Regions from separate parts of the Homo sapiens genome. Here region 2 is linked to region 1. The links come from fine-mapping of genetic effects on gene expression. Tissue or cell type: lung. Region 1 holds a variant in brackets; the other region holds the start of a gene. All regions are shown on one strand. Distances are from middle to middle.

Region 1 (8,184 bases):
TTATAAAGCAGTTCTTTATAAAGTTAAATATACACATACTATATGTCCCAGCAATTCCACTGTTAAGTACTTACCCAAGAAAAATGAAAGTAAAATTTGTGCTCAAGTTCAGAGCTGCTTTATTTTTAATGTCAGTAATTGTGAAAAACTAGAAAGAACTCAAATACCTATCAACTGGTGAAGAGATTAAATAATAAGTGAAATATTATTTAGCAACAAATAAGAATGAACTGATAACAAACAATAAGATGTTACAAAAAGCATTATATTAAATGAGAGAACCAGACAAAAAAGACTATAAAGTTCCATGTATATGAATTTCTAGAAAAGCCAGACTATAGTGATAAAAAGCAGATCATTATTACCATGGAGTAAAGAGGCAGGTGAAGGAAGTCACTGCCAAGAGGCCCACTGCAACTTTTAGTCGTAATGGAAATGTTCTATATCACGATTGTGGTAGTTGTCACAGAGCTGCATATGTTTGTCACAATTTATCAAATTATACGCTTAAAATTGAATTTTAGGCCGGGGTAGTGGCTTACACTTGCAATCCCAGCGACTTGGGAGGCCGAGGCAGGAGGATCACTTAAGGCCAGGAGTTCAAGACCAGCCTGAGCAACACAGTGAGATTCCCGTCTCTACAAAAAAAGAATTTTTTTAGTTGGCCAGTGTGGTGGTGTGTACCTGTAGTCCCAGCTACTTGGGCGGCAAGAGGATGCCTTGAGCCCAGGAGTTTGAGGCTGCAGTGAGCTATGATCACACCACTGCACTCCATCCTGTGCAGTGTGCAAGATCCTGTATCTAAAAGAAAAAAAATGAATTTTTTAATTTTTATTTATTTATTTTGAGACAGAGTTTCACTCTGTTGCCCAGGCTGGAGTGCAATGGCATGATCTTGGCTCACTGCAACCTCCGCCTCCCGTGTTCAAGCAATTCTCCTGCCTCAGCCTCTCGAGTAGCTGGGATTACAGGCATGCACCACCACACCTGGCTAATTTTTGTATTTTTAGTAGAGATGTGGTTTCACCATGTTGACCAGGTTGGTCTCGAACTCCTGACCTCAGGTGATTCACCCTCCTCGGCCTCCCAAAGTGCTGGGATTACAGGTGTGAGCCACCGCACCTGGCCAAAAAAAGAATTTTATTATATGTAAATTATGCCTCAATAAAGCTAACAAAAAATAGGAGGTTGCAATCAATCCCATGTATATCCTATGTGGACATGCAGGTGCCTCCTCATTACTACAGTTCATATCCAGGAAAAGCTTTCCAGAAGCTTTATTTTTAGACTGGTGGAATTCACAGTGCAAAATATCAGCCTCAACTCAAAAAAAGTCACCTAGCAATATATTAAGTTAAAAATATTATTTTACAAATGCTCCTATTTATTTTTTTATTTCCATAGGTTTTTGGGGGAACAGGTGGTGTTTGGTTACATGAATAAGTTCTTTAGTGGTGATTTCCGAGATTTTGGTGCACCCATCACCCTTTATTGTAATCAGAATAATGTAAAATTCTTCCTTGAGTTTAGATGTCAGGGTTACATAATATATGTAATTTGTGGACATAAGTATGGACTCTTCCGTAACAACGATTGTGGAGTTACTGGTCCCGGTTGATATTCTATTCTAGGAAAACTACTTTAAGTTTTCTACTTGCTAGGCCTCTTCAAAACAGTGAGCAGGAGTGATATCAAGAAATAAACTGCTCTGATGCCTTACTTCTATCTCAGAATAGCGAGCAAATTAATCAATGAAATTTTTCCAAAAGGTTATGGACATAGACAAATAAAATGAAGAGACATCAAGTGAATGTTTGAGCCATGTGGCAATGTCTTAAAGCAGACACACCTTTTTTGTTTGTTTGTTTGAGACAGAGTCTCACTCTGTTGCCCAGGCTGGAGTACAGTGGCGTGATCTCGGCTCACTGCAAACTCTGCCTCCCAGGTTTACTTACACCATTCTCCTGCCTCAGCCTCCCGAGTAGCTGGGACTACAGGCACCCGCCACCACGCCCGGCTAATTTTTTGTATTTTTAGTAGAGACGGGGTTTCACTGTGTTAGCCAGGATGGTCTCGATCTCCTGACCTCATGATCCACCCGCCTAGGCCTCCCAAAGTGCTGGGATTACAGGCGTGAGCTACCGCACCTGGCCAAGCAGACTCACATTTTCTATTCATGGACATTTAATCTATGATGGACCAAATGACTACAGACATGAGAAAACAATATGTGAGTATAGTCTGTTGGCTGGCAAGTCTAAAATACAGGATTCTATATTTACAAACATGGACATTAGCCAGTTATGATTATAGAAAAAATGACTGGCAGATCGAAAATGCTATAATGGGATGTATTTTTTTTTTGTCTTTTTGTTGAGACGGAGTCTCGCTCTGTCGCCCAGGCTGGAGTGAAGTGGTGCGATCTTGGCTCACTGCAACCTCTGCCTCCCGAGTTCAAGCGATTCTCCTGCCTCAGCCTCCCGAGTAGCTGGAATTAGAGGCGCCTGCCACCACGGCCAGCTAATTTTTTGTATTTTTAGTAGAGATGGGGTTTCACCATGTTGGCCAGGCTGGTCTTGAATGCCTAACCTGAAATGATCCACCTGCCTTGGCCTCCCAAAGTGCTGAGATTACAGGCGTGAGCCACTGCGCTCAGCCTGTATTTTAAAAAGATACAAAATGATGTGTACATATCTCAATGATTTTTTAATACACACAGGAGATCAAAAGACATACATAAAAATGTTAACAGTGATTGTCGATGCGTATTTTTTATTCCTTTCTATAATTTCCAAATTTTTATGAGAACATATTATTTTCATTATATTGACTAAGTAGACAGAAAGGAACACAAATAACACATCAGTGAGTTCATCACGACAGGCAATTTGTTTCACTCTACTAAGCTTACTATTTATACTTCAAGTGTTCCTTACTAGGGAAGAACTTTCACCTTGCACATAACGGTGTGACCTGCAAATAGTTCAGCTTCTACAAAATTCAAGTCAGTTGAGCAAGACAGCAATGGCTGGGAACACTTAACCACCAGGGCAGGTAATTCAGCACCTTAATATCAACAGTGCTCAGAAATGGAAACTTCCTCATTGTAAATGGCTTCTTCAAATGCTACATTCAGTTTGACACAAAGATAGTTCCCCGTGACAACAAGCTTATTAGTGTATTTTTAATATGAGGTAAAGGTATAAAACCATAGAAGTCATTTTCTTGAAAGTAAATGCAGAACAAGGCATTATCTGTTATAGAAGCATATGAAATGTGTTGAAAATTTACAAAGAAAACTGATGCTGTGGGAAATTTTAAGTACATTTCACATTGACAATCCAAAATATGAGAAAAATGTCTGGTGCATGTTTTGGGGAATGTTCATCCAAGATAACAGACTTTGAATATAAACAAGTACCTAGAAAACATTTTTGAATTACTAAAAACGGTATCTGTTCTTTTAAAAATGTACGGATTTGTGAAATAAATACCAGAAAATACCTGAAGGGGTGTAGTTATTGAGCTGGGCTACAAAGCTATGCATTTTACCTAAGACACTCTACTGACAAAAATACAAAATGGAAAAGCCTGACTTTTTGCAAGGAAAAATAAACCACAGGGGATCCAACTCAATCACAAAACATTATGCATTATGTAACATATTCATTTGAACCATTCCCTGAAATACAAACAATTGCTTCATCAAAGACGTAATAATAATATCAAATATTTGCTGAAATAGTATCTAATATTTGCTGAATTTATAGTATACACCAATGACTATTCTAAGAACTGATGTTTTGTATTAATTCATGGAATATCTACACATAGGAAATAGTATTTTTCTTCTGACTCTATCCAGAATTGACAAAGCGGATGGTTGGCTACTCTTGACCACTTCTCCCTAAGTCTATATCAAAAAAATTTTAATTAAGTGGTAATATGGGTTTTTTTTTTTAAATCTCATGCAACAAATTAATACTTTCAAAATTACCCTTAAAACCAGGGGAAATGCTCTCATCAAATATTCCTTGGAATTATTCAAATCCTACCTGACATTTTTCTGACTGGTCATTGCTCTGTATTATTAAGTACATTTTGTCAAAGTATTTATCATTGTTCATTAGCACTATTCTATGTACTTATTGTCACAGATTAGTGTCTGTCTAGAACAATGTCTACCTACCTCATTTGAATATAATGCTTTTTCCAAAGACTAAAAGCTCCTGGAGACTAGGGACCAGTTTTATCTTTATTTGGGTGGGGATTGGGGGGCAGAACAGTGCTGTACACTGTAGGTGGTTCAGTTGCTTTGAGCTGAAGTCCATTAAGCACTAATGTTTGAAAAGAATTTTCTTCACCTTAGCATGCAGTCAAATAACCTTGAAAGAGTCTCAGGTGTGAGGCAATATTAAAAGTGCAAGGCTGCCTGCACAGGTAATTAATAGAAAGAAAGCAGGACTCAGCTCATTCCCTGGGAAAATTCAGTAGTGGCATCTTTAGTAGAGCAAAAATCAGTTTTCAAGTACAGTATTAAATGACCTTCCTTCCTGCTCTGGCTCGAAGTAAATTAAATTAAGAGGCGTCAAACATGCACCCTCCCATGTGACATGTTCAGGCCCTGCTTGGGCTCATTACCAAGTAGGAAACTTTGGGCACATCTGTGTGCCTTGCCCGGCCTCATTTTCCCTTTCTGTCAGTTGGAGTAACCTCAAGAGGTCTTAATGAGGCCACGTAAGTAATGCACTTCCTCACTTAGTGAGCACTCAATCAATGGTAGCCAGCTAATCATTACCTCTCAGTAGCCTGTTGGTGGAGCAAAACATTGATGTTTGGTTTCACAGCAGACTTTGGAAGATAGCTCTGTTAGTGAAAGAGAGGGCTTCTCTTAGCCTGAGGAATGACTGAGCCAAAGGCTGTGATGGCCCGGTACTGTTCATCTGGTGAATTCTGTATGGAACACCCTCAAAGACTTAATATTCGCAAAACAGCTTTTTCCTGCCCACCCCCAATCCCCACCCCAGCGAGAAT[GT/G]TCGCCTTTTTCTAGCTGTGGGGCACTAGGCAGACTCCTCTTCCAGTAGCTCCAGAGATGAGCCCCACAGGTCCCAGCCACAGTTCAGCCCCTGCTCCAGCTGTGGTGACCTTGAGCCCTCTCTCAAAAGCCTGACGGTCAGGCTCAGGAGTTGGAGTTAGAGTTTACCAAAGAAATGAACCAATAGGATATATATAGAGAGAGCGCGAGAGATAAGAAAATACATTATGGGAATTGACTCCCGTGATTATGGAAGATGAGAGGTCCCACAATCTGCCATCTGCAAGCAGAAGAACCAGGAAAGCCAGTAGTGTAATTCAGTACAAGGCCCAAGGCCTGAAGACTAAGCAAGCCAACGGTGTAAGTTCTGGGGTTTCAAGACCCAAGGAGCAGGAATTCTGAGGTCCTAGGGCAGAAGTTGGCCGTCCCAGCTCAAGAAGATTCACCCCTTTTCTGCCTTTTTGTTCTATCTGGGCCCTCAAGGATTGTATGGTGCTCACCCACATTGATGAGAGTGGATCTTCTTCACTCAGTCCATGAATTCAAATGCTAATCTCTTCTGCAGATACCCTCACAGACATAGCCAGAAATGATGCTTTACCAGATATCTGGGCATCCTGTAGCCCAGTCAAGTTGACACATGAAATTAACCATCACAGTGTGGGTATTGCAGGGAGAGAAACTGTGTAAAGGCTGGGAGGTTACAGTTACAGTGTATAAGTAGTTCTACGCTGGCCAGGGAATAGAATGGATGTAGTCCACGGTTTCTAGTTTCCATGGCTGAATGGTGGTGTCACTCAATGCTGAGCCTCAGTTTCCTCAAGTAGGCACATTTACCATCATAACACCTGCCTTGCCAACCTCAACATGTTATTTGATAATCAGAGAAGCTAAGAGACTCACAAAAGTATATTTTGGAAATAAAAGTGCTCATTATTTTTTCAAGACACTATTTGAAAAATATTCAAGAGATGTATCTCCCAGCTTCCTTGAGAATCTTAGACAAGTCACTGGACTCAGTTAGCTTGTCTGGAAAATGGGAATAACAACTCCATCTCACTAGGTTATTGTGAGACATGAAAATACAAATACTGTTTGCCTTCTGCAAATCCCAAAGTCAGCAAAATGTATATTAATTAATTAAATGTATCTCCCAAGGAGCAAACTTGAAGTTTCTGAGACATAATACAAGAGCCAGAAGTCTTTCTATTCCAATATATTAAAGCAGCATTTGTACTTCTGCCTCGCCCCCGGCCATTCCCGGCTGCATCTGTGGCACATGCTTTCTTTAATCTCACACAGTTTTCCTTCAATGAAGTTGGAAGATCGAATCCAATGTTTTGCCATTCCTTGCTCCCTTTTTTTTCTTTAGGTTGTTCTTTTCCTAACAGATTTTCTATACCCTATCATACCCCATGCCTTAGGAATTAAGAGTTGCCCCAAACAGTCCTTTGGGTAAAGCTCTGCACCCAGCATGCTTTGGCCCTGCTCATTCACAGACGGCTGTGCCTGGATATGTTTGCTCCAGGGGTGGCTTAGGACCCATGAAGTTCTTGTTTCCCTTGGAGATTAGAATTGCAAGGTTCACATGGGGTGCATTCAGCTCACACATACTTTCACACGTACTTTCGGTCTCTGTAAAAATTAAAATGCAGCAGGTATTGTTCCTGCAAATCTCTATGCAAAAACATTCTGCCCGCGCTGGCCAAGGAAATCAAGCCCATTATAGCTCCTTGTGCTCATCCTTCCTTCCAAGAAGAGAGGTCTCATACATATTAGGCTGCTGTAAACAGCAAGAAGATTGTTTTTAAATACATTCTTTTTGGCTTTTAAGTCTCTTTGGCTTTTGAATATGAGTGAATTAATATGGTCTTTGACATCACAAGAGTAAAAACAAACCACTGAAAAATGAGTAGTGAAGATTTGAATAGAACTAAATATTCCAAATCTGATCAGAAAATGCTTGTCAATCCCTCTGGTGTTTCTCCCCGTATCTAACATCTCCCAAACCATATATTCTTCCCAATAATACCAAAAAGAGAAAAAAGATATTTAACCTATAGAATCATATAGAGTGTGAATCTTAAAACATTAATTTCTCTCAAAGTAAATCTAGTGCCTATGGGCACTAGCAGCAGAGCATAGCTGCTAACACCTTCGTCCAACAAATCGAGGTTTAAATCCTGGTCCTGCTCCTTGGTATCTAATGACCTTAATTAAAGTGTTGTAATATTTCTGAGGTATTGGGATTTGATTAGAGGCATCCACTGGCAATAATTTGAGCAATGCTTTGACTACATCATTCCAGGTACTGCTCAGCAACAATTCAGAGAATTCATCCTTAAGATTCTGTTCTTTTCGAAACACATCCAGTACCAAAATCTGTATCAGACAGTGCTCACTTAGAGAAGCAGCACCAGTGGGAGGTAGATGATAAAATGATAAATAGATTATGTAGGTAGGTAGATAATTCATTACAGAAAATTAGCTTACTATCGTGGAGGCTGACTAAGCAAGTCCAACATCCCTAGCCCAGGGAACCAGGAAGGAAAGATCATGAGCAGAATGAAACTCACGGGCACAGGCCAGCACTGTCATCCACAGACAGAATTTCATCTCTTTGTAACAAAAACCTGGGGTCAGGCGCGGTGGCTCACGCCTGTAATCCCAGCGCTTTGGGAGGCCTACGCGGGCGGATCACGAGAAGAGGAGTTCGAGACCAGCCTGACCAACATGGTGAAACCCCATCTCTACTAAAAATACAAAAATTAGCCAGGCGTGGTGGTACATGCCTGTAATCCCAGCTACTCAGGAGGCTGAGGCAGGAGAATTGCTTGAATCCAGAAGGTGGAGGTTGCAGCGAGCCGGGATCTTGCCACTGCACTCCAGCCTGGGTGACAGTGAGTGACTTCGTCTCAAAAAAAAAAAAAGAAAAGAAAAAAGAAAAACTTCAGCCCTGTTTTGAAGGCCATCCCACTATTCAGTAAGGCCCACCCAGATTTTCTAGGGTAACCTCTCTTATTAAGGTTAAGTGGTTAATGGCTTTAATCACATATGCAAAATACCTTCATAGCATGACATAGGTAAGTGTTCGACTAACTGGAGACTGTAGTCTAGTCAAATTGACACATTAAAACATCAACAAAAGT
Region 2 (8,184 bases), 24 kb after region 1:
CAGCCTCCCGAGTAGCTGGGATTACAGGCATGCGCCATCAGGCCCGGCTAATTTTTGTATTTTTAGTAGAGACGGAGTTTCTCCATGCTGGTCAGCCTGGTCTCGAACTCCCGACTCAGGTGATTCACCCGCCTAAGTCTCCCAAAGTGCTGGGATTACAGGCGTGAGCCACCGGATGTGGCCCAAAAGATCCAAAAGACAGCAAAAACACTGGGAAAAACTATTTGCAAACCACATCTCTCAGGGGTCCCCAAGTCCTGGGCCTCAGACTGGTACAGGTCAATGGCCTGTTAGGAAGCTGGCAACACAGCAGGAGTTAAGCACCTCCTGAGCCAGCCTCACCACCTGAGCTCTGTCTCCTGTCAGATCAGCCAGGGCATCAGATTCTCACAGGAGAGCGAACCCTATTGTGAACTGCGAATGCGAGGGATCTAGTTTGCATGCTCCTTATGAGAATCTAATGTCTGATGATCTTAAGTGGAACAGTTCCATCTGGAAACCATTTCCCCCACCACCCCCACTTCCGTGGAAAAAACTGTCTTCCACGAAACTTGTCCCTGAAGCCAAAAAGGTTGAGGACTGCTGATGTAACTGATAAAGGACTCATGTCTATAATTTAAAGAACCTTCAAAACTCAACAGTAACAGAACAAATCAAGAAAATAAGAAAATGACACGAAGAGGGATTTCACTGAAGAGGATATGTGTATGGCAAAGACATGAGAAAATGATCAACATCCCTAGTCATTAGGAAAATGCAAATTAAGACCAGAGTGAGGTATCACTGCACACCTAATCGGAACAGTAAAAGTAAAAAAATAGTGACAATACAAAATACTGGTAAGGATGTGGAAAAACTGGATCTCTCATATATGGCTGCTGGGAATGTAAAATAGTACCACATTTCTGGAAAATAGTTCAGCAGTTTCTTTAAAAATTAAACACATACTTACCATATGACCCAGCAATCACACTCCTGGACATTTATCCCAGAGAAATGAAAATTTAGGTCCACAGAAAAACCTGCAAGCAATTTTTCAAGACAGTTTTATTTGTAATAGGCACTCCCCCCGCCCAAAAAAAGAAGGAACCAAAATGTATGATAGGTGAATGCTGAATGATTAAACAAACTGTGTTACACCCATAGTGTAGAACTCAGTAACAGAAAGGAACAAACTAGAAATACCTGCAATAACTTGGATAAATCTCTAGGGCATTCTGCTGAGTTGGGTGGGGTGGGGGGGTGGGGGGGATGGTGAGCTAATCTTAGAAGGTCACAAGCTGTGAGGACCAATTTATAAAACATTCCCCAAACGACAAAATTATAGAAATGGAGAACAGACTGATGGTTGCAAAGGGTTAGGGATGGTGTGGGGGAAAGAAAGGGACGACCATAAAGGGACTGTATGAGAGAGATCTTCGTGGTGTTGAAATAGTTTGTATTTTGATTGTGGTAATGATTACAAGAGTCTTCAGGGATAAGGTGACACAGAATCACAGGCACATTTTATCTCAGTGTCAATGTCCTGGCTTTATTATTGTGCTCTAGCTATGCGGGATGTAACCAACAGTGGAGGCTCTATCAGACCTCTCTGTACTATCTTTGCAACTTCCTGTAAGTCTACATTCAAATAAAAAGTTAAAAAAATCGGTGCCCAGGCCACATCCCAAACCTTGTAAATTAAAATATCTAGGGGAAGAACCTAAACAACTGCATTTTTTTTTTAAATGCACGAGGTAATTTTAAAGTGTAGCTAGAGTTAGGAACCACCGCCAGCTGGTATTATTACCGAAACTACAAGCAGGTGGAACACCTGTAAGTCTGGTGGAAGATGATAAGGAAGGAGAAAACTAAATATACAAATCTATGTTAGGTTTCTTGAGGGTTTTATTCTCCTAACGTTAAAACCTAGTATTAAGTGAATCCAAATAATGTGGATGGGATAATCAGTCATCCATTATGATACAGACCATTTTACACAAAATAGGCCAGCCCCAATAGACTATTCTTTAGATTCTTAAGCATTTGGTATCGATGTTACAATTTTAAAATGCTAAAAAGCAATTATAATCACATTTAAATATGCAGCAATTTTAGAAAATCAATGTTTCACCGAGTTTCTCATTTTAGATGAATAACAAAATGAGTTCAAATTTTTATTTGTGTTGACTACCACCAGCAGCGACCCGTGGGAAGTAAGTGAAAAGCAAGTATTCCTATTTTGACTACACATTCTAATGTATTGGTTATTTATATTTATGATCACCAACTATTATCTATTAGACTTCTCCGGATTTAACTGTTTAGGAAGTGAGCTGTAGACATACAGAAACCAAGGATTATTTTGAGCCAATAAACAGTGACTTGACCAACCGAATGCCTTGTGTGGTTATTAATCATTCCATATCACCATCATCAAAAGACACTGTGCATCTACTCAGCTGGGCCAGGGGATTAAAGGTTTACGAAAGAGTCCCTCCTTGCCTTTAAACGGTTTAAAGTCTGTTTGAGGATGGGTCCAAATACATAAAATGATGAATAACAAAGCGAAGAACATGCTGAAATCTGGACTGACAAAAGAAAAGGGCCAAAGGGCTTGTTTTTACTGGAAGTATTTTTGCATAAGCTGGGAAGGGAGTTTGCATCTTCTGGACTCATAGATCAGACAAATGAGCAGCTTCAACAAAGCAGATTTATGCTATCCACCAGGAGGGTTTTGCTTAGTTGTCAGTTGTGGACTTTCTTCCAAAAATGCAGCTGTTTTGAAGCAAGAAATCTGGCACCAAAAAATAAATAAAATGAAAATTTAGAATAAGAATTACCTCCCACCCAACTCTAATCAACAGCTACGTCTCCCTTTCCTCCACCTTCAAGATTTAAAGGTCTGGGGTGGAAACTGGAGGTGTGGGGGGGCGAATGAGCTATTTGCCTTGCCCCAAGACCACCAATCTCCTGTGTGTGTGTCTCTCTCTCTCCAAATACGACCCTCACACACTCTCCAATTTACACTGCTACAACTTCCCAGATTTGTTTTACCTTCTGGAAAGATTTATCCATTTGGAAGCGTTCTTGAAGTTGCTAACTGTCGTGAAGTTCGATTTGAAAGCAAAACAATGACCGCGTTTTAACAGACAGTGCAAATTCTTTTTAAAAAAAAGTTGTTTTGTGATTATGGGAGATAATCAACAGCTACTCAGACATTCTTCTCTTAAACAGCTGAGGTTTATCATTTTCGCTATTATGACAATGAATTTTTTCCTCCTTTGCTTTCTGCCTTTTGGCAGGAGCCTCGACTCTGCAGGTGTTAGCGCTGTAAGGGCCGAACCCAACCGCCAGAATGTCTGCCGAGCCTAGCATGGGATGCTGCCCAGCAAAACAGCACCCAGGGAGAGGGCGACTGAGGAAGACAGCCTGCAAGCGCGCTTCAGAAAGGACTGGGACCAGAGCCCTAGAAAACTACAGCGAGTGGATTCCCTGGCAGGGGAAACCCGCGAGAGCCTGGGAAAAAAAAAAAAACGAGAGGGAGAGAAAAAAACTCACCCGGGCGCCCTGAAGCCCAGCGCAAGCAAGCGAGTGAGCGCGCAGGCTGGCTGGGCTGCTCCAGCTGGAAGTCATTGTGCGGGCTGGCGTCTGCGTTGTCAGGGCGACCGCCCGGCCGGCGCCAGCGGAGCGGGGGAGGCGGGCTCCGTGAATGGGTGACGTCACGCAGCCGGCGCCAGGCAGTCTGGGCGGCCGAGCCAATGAATCAGCTGTCCGGGGGAGGCAGCGCAGCGCGGCGCGCGGGAGCTGGGTGCAGGAATGCGCCTGGAGCCGCGCGGCCCGGGAGGGCGCGAGACGTCTCCGCCCGCCTGGTCGCCCCGCGGCGGCCAGAGGTCCCAGCGTCCCAGGCTCGGCCATTCCGGTGCCCCCCACGCCCAGTCTGCGGCTGTGCCCGCGTCCCTAGTTTTCCGCCGGTTACCCCCACGGGCGCGCGCTCTGCGGGGAGGCCCACGAGCTGGGGGGGCCGCTGGGGTGGTGTCAGGATGTTTTCACTTACTGCGACTGTGGCACTTATTTAAAAGGAAACATACAATAAAACTTGTCCTTGTAGATAAAATAGACTTTGAAAGTATTGATGAATTCACTGCCACCTTACTGTGCTCTCCGCATTGTGCTGGGTGTTGGGTATCACAAACAATGAAAGGACCAGGACTCGGAAGTTCCCAAAATTGAACTGGGTAGAAAAAAGTGTAAGGAACTCATGATTCAGACTTACAGCCGACTGCTCTTCCAATATTCTATAGTGTGGGACTATAGGGCGCCTTTAAGGTTCTAGAAGGCAAATGGCTCCAAAGATTTCCAATTTTTTGGTGTTTTTGTGTTTTGCATTACCTCTGTCCTGCTTTGCTCTCCATTACAGTGTCCTGTAGGTGGCCAAGTACTGGGTTAAGGTCATTTCAGTATGCCCAGCATTTGACGCTCTCCCTGACTCCTGGTAAGGACTGGACATTGTTGATGGGTAATCCACAATGCAAGAGCAAATAATTTTAAGGCTAGAGTAAAAGGAGTACTTCTGAATTCCTAAACATCTTTTTGGGTGCTTACTTGTTGGTTTCTGGTGGTTTTTCAAGAGTAGTGATGCATCATTACTGAAACTGGAAAACCAGAGTGTGGCCCAGACTCACATTATAGTAGATGTCGTTAAATCAGCCCTTCCTGCTGAAGTCTGTGCCCCCCTTTTTAAATCTGGAAGATGAGATCTGGTGAGATATTCTCTTAAGACTCATGAAGTTCTAGCAGTCTATCATTGTATTTATCAACCTTTCAAACGAATGACTTTATTCCTATCACAGTATGTGATATATGTGACATTCATTTAACAAACACTTCAGGGTCCCTGCTATGCAAATACTATGTACTGGAAGTTTTAACTGAAATTTTTTTGGAATAAAAGTTAAGGGCCTGGCGGCTCATGCCTGAATCCCAGCACTCTGTGGGGCCGAGGGAGAGTTCGAGACCAGCCTGACCAACATGGTGTCCGGAATTGGTGGGTTCTTGGTCTCACTTACCTCAAGAATGAAGCCGCAGACCCTCGCGGTGAGTGTTACAGTTCTTAAAGGCGGCGTGTCTGGAGTTTGTTCCTTCTGATGTGTTCAGTTTCTTCCTTCTGGTGGGTTCATGGTCTCGCTGGCTCAAGAGTGAAGCTACAGACCTTCCCCGTGAGTGTTACAGCTCATAAGGCGGCCTGTCTGGAGTTGTTCATTCCTTCTGGTGGGTTTGTGGTCTCGCTGGCTTCAAGAGTGAAGCTGTAGACCTTCACGGTGAGTAGCACACAGCTCATAAAGGCAGTGGGGACCCACAGAGTAAGCAGCAGCAAGACTTATTGCAAAGGGCGAAAGAATAAAGCTTCCACAGCACCTAAGCGGACACGAACGGCTTTTTACTGCTGGCTGGGGCAGCCTGCTTTTATTCTCTTACCTGGCCCCACCCACATCCTGCTAATTAGTCCATTTTACAGAGAGCTGAGTGGTCTGTTTGCGCTGATTGGTGCATTTACAACCCCTGAGCTAGACACAAAGGTTCTCCACATTCCCACTAGATGATGCTAGATACAGAGTGTCCACACAAAGGTTCTCCAAGTCCCCACCAGAGTAGCTAGATACAGAGTGTCCATTGATGCACTCACAAACCCTGAGCTAGACACAGGGTGCTGATTGGTGTGTTTACAAACCTCGAGCTAGATACAGAGTGCTGATTGGTGTATTTACAATCCCTTAGCTAGACATAAAGATTCTCCAAGTCCCCATCAGATTCAGGAGCCCAGGTGGCTTCACCCAGTGGATCCCGCACTGGGGCCGCAGGTGGAGCTGCCTACCAGTCCTGCGCAGTGGGCCCACACTCCTCAGCCGTTGGGTGGTGGATGGGACTGGGCACCATGGAGCAGGGGGCAGTGCTCATCAGGGAGGGTCAGGCCGCACAGGAGCCCACGGACGTCGGGGGAGGCTCAGGCATGGCGGGCTGCAGGTCCCAAGCCCTGCCCCGTGGGAAGGCAGCTAAGGCCCACCGAGAAATTGAGCACAGCAGCTGCTGGCCCAGGTGCTAAGCCCCTCACTGCCCGGGGCCGGCACCGCTGGTGGGCTGCTCTGAGTGCGGGGCCTGCCAAGCCCACGCCCACCTGGAACTCGCGCTGGCTCGCAAGCACCACCTGCAGCCCCAGTTCCCGCCCACGCCTCTCCCTCCACACCTCCCTGCCAGCTGAGGGAGCCGTCTCCGGCCTTGTCCAGCCCAGAAAGGGGCTCCCACAGTGCAGCAGTGGGCTGAAGGGCTCCTCAAGTGTCGCCAAAGTGGGAGCCCAGGCAGAGGAGGCGACGAGAGCGAGCAAGGGCTGTGAGGACTGCCAGCACGCTGTCACCTCTCAATGGTGAAACCCCATCTCTACTAAAAAAAAAAAAAACAAATTAGCTGGGTGTGGTGATGCACGCCTGTAGTCCCAGCTACTCAGAAGGCTGAGGCAGGGGAATCACTTGAAGGTGGCAGAGGTTGCAGTGAGCCGAGATGGTGCCACTTGCACTCCCACCTGGGCAACAGAGCAAGACTCCATCTCAAAAAAAAAAAGGGGAGAGAGAGAGAAAAAGAAAAGGAAGGAAGGAAGAAAGAAAGAGAGAAACTAGAAAACAAAGCAAGTGCTAATAAACGGGTATAGGCCAGTTTATCTTGATGTGCATGAAGTCACCTGGCAATTGGATGAAATGCAGAAGAGGCTTGGGATTCTGCATCTTTAACAAGCCCCCAAGTGATGTTGATATTGCTAACCCTGAACTGCACTTTGAATAAAGAGAATCTTGACCACAGAGTACCAAGGAAAGCATAAAGTAAGAATATAATGGATATAAAGTGGTCTGGGTTCCTAAAACCTGTGGAGAAGATGAGCTTGAGCCACGTGATTGTGCATATGATTGGCTGAGGGAATGAAAAAGCAGAAGAAACAGCATAAATAACAATTGCATTGGAAGGAAAGGAGCAAAAAATAAGTTGAGGGGTGAAGAAGATTTTGTCTGACTTCAATTAAAAATATTTAGGGAAACTATAAAAAATGGGATTGAAGATTTACTGGTGGGGTAAGACAACCTTAGAGGTTACCCAATTTAATTTGGTGTAGTTGAAACTGAGCAGCAGTACAATCTCATTAGATAATGGCAGAGCTCAGAATGGAAGCCGAACCTGAGAAATTTAGATGACAAATACCTTACACATAGAGTCTTTGATATAAGAAAAGCCACTTGTCATTGTTGTGCAAGGTGAAAATATGAGGGAAGAACGAAAACAAGCGAAGAGACCCATAGGAAATAATATTAATAGTCCAAGCATGGAGTTTTGGGGAAGGTTTGGTCTAGGGAAGATGAGAAAATATCAGGTGAAGAGGTGAATCAGAAAAATTTTGTGTTTGCATGAATTGTAATGGCTGCCACCAGCTGATTAAATCATCCATTTATGTAAGAAAAGGAAAAAACTTCCCTCCATCCCTCCCATGGTCCAATGAAGCATTTTTCAACCCTGACCTCACATCGGCATTACTATTTTTTTTCAGTGGGAATTCCTGAGCTCCACCCCACAGAAATTTAATCAGAATCTCTGGGAGTGGAGCCCTAGAATCAGTATTTTTAAAGCCTCCCTAGGTGATTATAATGGGCAGTCAGTGTTGAGAATCACTAATCTAATATACAGTCACCAGCTCATTTTGTAGGCTTCATTTCTGCCCCTGAACATTACCCCCAGTGTTAACTGTTATACTAGCACTAGATCATTTTTAATACTGGGTGTGTTTGGTGGTGGATTTTGATGGTTTATAGCACATTCTCTAAGCTCAATGTCTTCCATCCCTCATTAACTGTCATGGTTTAGTTGTGAACATACCCTGATATCTCTCATTGGCGAGAGAAGGAACAGTGATTTGGCACGTGACTGGATGGAAATGATAAACCTGGTTTATGAACCTATATGGTACCATAGTGTGGCAGTGCAGTTATTTTACTTGATTTTAGCTTTGCTTTAATAATCTACTTTAACAGCCTCTTTAGGTTTAGAACTGATGAATGAGCACTTAAAATAGCGACTTGGACCATTGGAACTTTTATTTTGCGTCTTCTCTAAAAAAATAATCGTTACTTGCTGGAAAAAAATCTGAAGGTGAGAAGAGTGTATAGT

The links. PIP is the estimated chance that this variant, and not a neighbour inherited with it, causes the effect.
Region 2: it holds the start of LNC-LBCS, and the variant in region 1 is fine-mapped to the expression of LNC-LBCS in lung (TOPMed, PIP above 0.99).

The regions. Positions count from the first base shown.
Region 1 is chr6:19,776,641-19,784,824 of GRCh38, forward strand. The region is part of intron 2 of LNC-LBCS (lncRNA bladder and prostate cancer suppressor, hnRNPK interacting); the gene reads right to left. Among named protein-coding and RNA genes, the nearest start is that of LNC-LBCS, 24 kb to the right of the region's middle. The variant GT/G (reference allele first, on the strand shown) is at 5,035.
Region 2 is chr6:19,801,135-19,809,318 of GRCh38, forward strand. LNC-LBCS (lncRNA bladder and prostate cancer suppressor, hnRNPK interacting) reads right to left here and starts at 3,625. Exons shown (of 4, transcript NR_134651.1): 1 at 3,541-3,625; 2 at 953-1,022. It overlaps LOC105374963 (a long non-coding RNA gene), which reads left to right and starts at 6,788. Exons shown (of 5, transcript XR_007059488.1): 1 at 6,788-6,851; 2 at 8,049-8,166. RefSeq lists a silencer at 3,544-3,593.